Linked DNA regions of Homo sapiens: region 2 is linked to region 1. Evidence: fine-mapped expression QTL. Tissue or cell type: gastroesophageal junction. Region 1 holds a variant in brackets; the other region holds the start of a gene. All regions are shown on one strand. Distances are from middle to middle.

Region 1 (2,767 bases):
GCAAGAAAACAGGATCAGTCAGCATTCATTTCTGTAGACACCTGGCATCCTTTCTCTTAGCTATTCCCCCACCTTCCTTGCTAGAAAAGAAGAGCTGCCATCTTTCAAGAAACTTTGAGGCAATGATGGAAATGCCAGTAACAAGTTGTGGTTCCATCAGCTTCCCAAACAGACTTTATCTGAACACCAAACTTGAATCGGGAGAGGCAATCACAAAAGTAAACACTGTCAACTAACATCCCTCTCATCCCAAACATGAGCAATACAACAGCACAGTACAGGCTTATACAAAGAAGATTGTACTAATCACCAAGGAACTGCTGGAGAAATGTTAGGAAATCTCACATTCCAATTAACTTTTCCACTTAAGTCTAAGCTTCAACCAATTATCTCAAACGGAGCAAATGTTCTTAAGAATTCACAAATAGTAATGTTGGTTATTCCTCAGTCCTCTCTGGGCTCTTTTGCTAGATGTGAAAAATGCAAAGAGATGGAATTTTTGAAAATGCCAAGTCACTGCACAAATACCACAAAACACTTGGCAACACCTGTCATATTTTGGCACTGGTACTCATCTGTCTGCAGTATTGCCCTTTATCATTAAAATGCAAACTTAAGTGCCATAAGAACTAAAGTTGAATAAATATGTTTATGAACATCTGAATGAAAAATTTACCAGACACCTGTTTGAATGTATTTAATATTTCCAAAAGTTTGTGTAATAAAACATAAAACAACCCAATTTGATCAAACATAAGCATAGCTTATATTTTAAAAAGTATAACAAATACTGTGCTCTAGGTGATAAAGAGGTAAGACTGATGGTTCACATAGAAATCATTCTGATGAAAGCGATTACTTTAGGTTGAACCATATAATATTTCCATTTTTATAGGTCAAAAGGGTCAAATGTCAAGAATTTCACATGGCTCGATTGTGTAATGACCAGTTCTGCATGATGAAGAAGGATGTGTCCTAACTGAAAATCCAGTATGTGCTTTGCAAGTATAAGAAAGATATTACATTTAAAAAAAATAACTAGTGCATTCACAAAACCTAGTCTGATTATTAAAGATACTGAAGAGATCAGTGTCGGGGAGATGGAGAGAAGAACGGCATTGTACAGCTTAACGACAAAGTTGAGGAAGCCCTGGGATCATCAAGATATACTAAATTTGATTCATTTGAGAACAGCATTGATCCTAGAGAGGATCATTTAGACATTAGTGAATGCTTTTCCAGAAATTCAGCCATTCCTCAGGGAACTTCCCAATTCCTCTCTCGCCAGATAGGGGATTAATTTTGTCTACTCAAAGAAATCTAAAGCTTTCAAGCTCACATGAGAATATTAACCTGACATGTGACTCTAAAGTAGGGAGCAGTAAAGAAACTTCTGGCTGTTAAGAATTTTCTTGGAGTTCTAAAATCACAAGATCCATACTCATAAGGAGTGGCTGATAAAGAAAAAGGGTAAGATTTCTAAAAAGTGGTGAAAAGAGAGTTGGGTGCCAATATTTAAAAAGGCACAGCAAAAACTAGGCAAAATAGTCAGAGGTCTCAGGTCAGGATGGAGTGGCCAAAGATGGTAAGGAAAGTTAGGTCGGTAGAGAGCATTGACATAAGAGTTATTTTTGAGTTGCATGCCACGCTGATC[C/A]CTTTTCCATAAACAGAAAGTTATCTAAGGGGATTGTTTCTCTCTGACTGTGCACCGGCTACTACTTGTACTTAAAGGACTCTAACTGTAGAGTAGCCTCCAAAATCTGAGATCGCCTGGAGTGCCAGTTCATCAATTTATCAGCTACTTAATTTCCCCCAACTGTATCATTTTTTTCTACAACATTACTCTCATATTATGAAATAGATTGGGTTCAAATCATTTGGTTTCATCTCAATCCTTGTGATTGAACATGCAATTGAAAAATACAACTGAATTATTTGTTTTAATTCATCCTTGGAACAAAGCAAGGAACAAATAATTGCTTAAAATTAAATATTTATTAAAGCATGTCTTAAACCATTTTAAATATGGCCCTTGTAGCAGCAATATTAAAAAGATAAAGTTAATGTCTCCTTTTTGATGAAATTTTCCCAGCACATATACTTAATTATCTGCCAATTAGTAGAGTTCTATAAAGTAATAAACCTATGAATGCCAGAGGGCGCCTTAGGCATCATCTTGCAGTGAAAAGTCATGCCAAATGTTCCCCCAGAGTTAGTGGTAGGTTTCCATCTTGTTCTTTCTTAACCTTATACATTGTTCTGTAAGGACAGGGTGAAAAAAGATGATATGGATCTAATCATAATAAAAGCTCAAGAGGTTACTTCCTACTTCTTATTTTAGTGCTTTAACTAAGTCAAAAGAAGTGCTATCCATTTTATTGTCCCTCCCAGTCCAATTCTAGTCAAAATCAGCTTCAAAGTTTACTGGGTAGAAACATAACTGAAAGAAAATAACAAACATATAATGAAGACTAAAGGCATTCTTAACATTTCATCAGGCAGGAAAACATTGTGGAGATGCTGATAAAAATGTCAACATCTGAGTTCATATCATAATGTTTGAGTATCGTGCACAGAAAAGAAAGGCATGTCTTTGGAATTATTTGGAAGAAAATGTCATTGAAAACAAAGGAGAAATAAGAGTGAAGCAATAGTGCAAATAAATTTTTTAAATTAACAGTAAAAGTTTATAGAAGATGCTTTCATTGGTAAAAAAATCAATTATAGAAATTATCTTTTGAAAATAATTATTAAACATATTTTTATG
Region 2 (2,767 bases), 300 kb after region 1:
AGATGATTTTCTAAAAATCATTAAGTTTTTTATTAATTTCAAAATTATATAAACTTACAATTTTAGCTTCTTAAAGAAATGCAGAGTATTTTAAAACTAATCTTTATAAGCATTACCCACCCTCAAACCTCTTTCCTGTTTTTCCTTAAAAGCCTAACGAGGAAAATTGATTTTTAAGTGTTGTCATCTCCGTCTAGGTACTAAAGACAGCCAACATTACTATTGTTGTATATCTGTCTTACTCTTGATGATACAAGTATATTGATGATGTAATTGCAGAAGTTAGGGTTTACTCATGCTGTTGGACCAAAGGGATTTTTTTAGACTGCCTCCTTGAGCACCACAGAACAGTTGTAAAACAGAACCAAGCACACAATTTAAGCAATTCATCTCTTGAAAGTAAATCTGCAGGATCTTCTTCTTGAAGAACTGATGAAGAGCTAGAAATAAAAAAATCATTGGTAAAGCTTCTTTTGCTTCAGACTGGATGCTGAGCTGGAAAAACACTTGGGTGACACACTAGTGTATGACATCTTGGCTTTTAACCCTTTCCTAGAAGCCCTCAACTTTTGTTCTCTGTTGAGCTCTATTTTTTTCTTCCAAAATTCCGAGGGGTTATGGAATATCCCAGCCTTTCATCTCAACCCTATTTGTCCCTATGTAGATATTCTCCTGAAAGTTGACTGGAAACTAAGCAGTCATTTATCATTCTGAATTCTTTTTTTAAAAGCAATGACTGAGAAGTCATGATGCTCCATAGAATCATGTACATTATAAAAACAGGAGAGCCGAGATTTTACAAATATATCTGCTACGCTAAGAGAACCCCATGGTTGTGATTTCCAAGTGCAAACAAAAAGAAGGGACAGGAAAATACAGACAGAAAATCGCATGCAGATGAAGCAGTGCGTGCAACGGAGGAAAGAACATACCTGAGGAATTCTCCTTTAAAAAAAAATGTGCACGCCAACTGGGTTGTTCTTCCCCTCCTTTTGGAGTGTATGTGTTTTCCTTTTAGGAACACCACTTGCAATTGTGTTTCTAGTCTCGTTTCCTTTTTTCAATCACAAATAGTTAGAACAGGAGTGGAAGCTGCGTCCCAGGGATCCGACTCGTGCAATCAGGCATGCCTTGGTCTGCAACGGTGTCTGTTCTTTTCTTGTCAATTCTATCGCACTCCCGGGTAGCCTCCGAAGCAATTCTACAACTTAGCTGCTGGCAAGAAACTGCCTTTCACTCTTCTCATTGCCAAATACCTTCCGCGGCTCATTTCTCATCTCTTTCTCCCAGAAAGCAAAATGGGATCTCTCCCGTGTGTTGAGGAGCGCCCAGGCTCATCAACATTTGAGGGTGAGGAGCAGCCGGGCTGAGTGCGTGCTGGGAACTTCACACATCGCCGGCTGCGGCTGAGTCTTTTCTGAATGCAGCACCGGCACTGCGATCCCCAGCCTCCTCCACCGAGAGCGCCCGGGCTCCCTCTCCTGCCGCCGTAGCACGGCGTAGCTCCGAGAGGGTGAGCTACAGCCCCTGCTCACAGGAGACGCACTGTAGCCACTGCCAGGTGTGGCCTTCACCACCGCACTGACAACTAACTGTGTGGGACACAGCTTCATCGCTGGGAGACGCCTGAATGCCAGAGCTTCCTCAGCCTATCTTCCCTTTATCGCTGGATGATGACCTAGGAGACAGTCATGGCCAATTCTGCCAGTGGAATAGCGTGGATAATACTAAATTACCCATGTTATTCAACAATGACTGTTTTAGATGTACTTGACTGTACTTGGAATTATGAAAGTATACCGCACACAGTATCATTCCCTATTAGCCACCAAATGCAGCTAACAGGACCCTGTATTTAAATAGAGGAGATACTGATATCCCATCCCAGTTGGTTTTTCCTCTTATTTTTGTGGAAAACCATTTGAAGGTGATTCCTGAACAATTTCAATTAATGACACATGCATAAATCAAAGTGGGAAATGATGGGTAACTTACAGTGATGCAAAGGTTTTTCTTCTCACTTAGGAATAATGTCTTTTCATTTGATGTTAACATTTTAAAGATCTGGCTGGGAATTGAATGGACTTGCTTTCTCTTTTAGTTTTGCTGAGTAGAGGAGGTGGGGGGAGTAACAGTTCCCACTTTCCATCAATAAAGCATTTTCAATCCTCTAATCCTCCTGTTGAAACAAATAAAAAAGTACTGAATCTTAAAATACAGCCTTAAAGCAGCTTGAGGCCTGAAATAATTTGGAGGTTTTAAGCTACATCTGCTCTACTGCTTACTTAAAATTTTACTTTTCTTTGCTTTTTAGAAAATGGAAGGATATTTCCAGGACTGAAGAACGTCAACTAGCAGCTGTGGTTAAACAGTATAGGAAGCATATATACAGATTTGTATGGCATTTTTCAGTACATGGAGGGATGAATATGTCTTGACTGACATTAGAATTGACTCCACCTAAATATTCAATAATAATAGTTGCCATCAAAATAAACAGTTAAACCGGATATAGCATTTTGTGGCAAAACTTGTGGCAAAACATTTCACCTACCGTATGTGACAACCAATAAATAACCTCTCCATGATGTTTAAAAAAGTGTCCCCAAATGTGACACAATATATATGTTGGGTACTAGCAGCTGAGCCCTCCCCATTCCCAGCTATCAGCCCCACCTTTAATTCAGAGCAGCACAGCTTCCCTTACCCGCTGCTTAAGTGACTGTTAATGGACCTGAGCAGCTGCTCAAGGTCTAATGATCTGCAT

Which allele goes with the higher level. Positions count from the first base shown, and alleles are read on the strand shown. Sizes are in standard deviations (SD) of each study's normalised expression.
For the expression in gastroesophageal junction of the gene that starts at base 1,419 in region 2, A is the low allele of the variant in region 1 and C is the other (moderate effect, 0.46 SD a copy in GTEx).

What was found. PIP is the estimated chance that this variant, and not a neighbour inherited with it, causes the effect.
Region 2: it holds the start of UNC13C, and the variant in region 1 is fine-mapped to the expression of UNC13C in gastroesophageal junction (GTEx, PIP 0.98).

The regions. Positions count from the first base shown.
Region 1 is chr15:54,276,918-54,279,684 of GRCh38, reverse strand. All of the region lies in intron 10 of UNC13C (unc-13 homolog C), which reads right to left. Among named protein-coding and RNA genes, the nearest start is that of UNC13C, 300 kb to the right of the region's middle. The variant C/A (reference allele first, on the strand shown) is at 1,655.
Region 2 is chr15:53,977,093-53,979,859 of GRCh38, reverse strand. UNC13C (unc-13 homolog C) reads right to left here and starts at 1,419. Exons shown (of 33, transcript NM_001080534.3): 1 at 933-1,419. It overlaps LOC124903495 (a long non-coding RNA gene), which reads left to right. Exons shown (of 2, transcript XR_007064646.1): 2 at 2,315-2,510.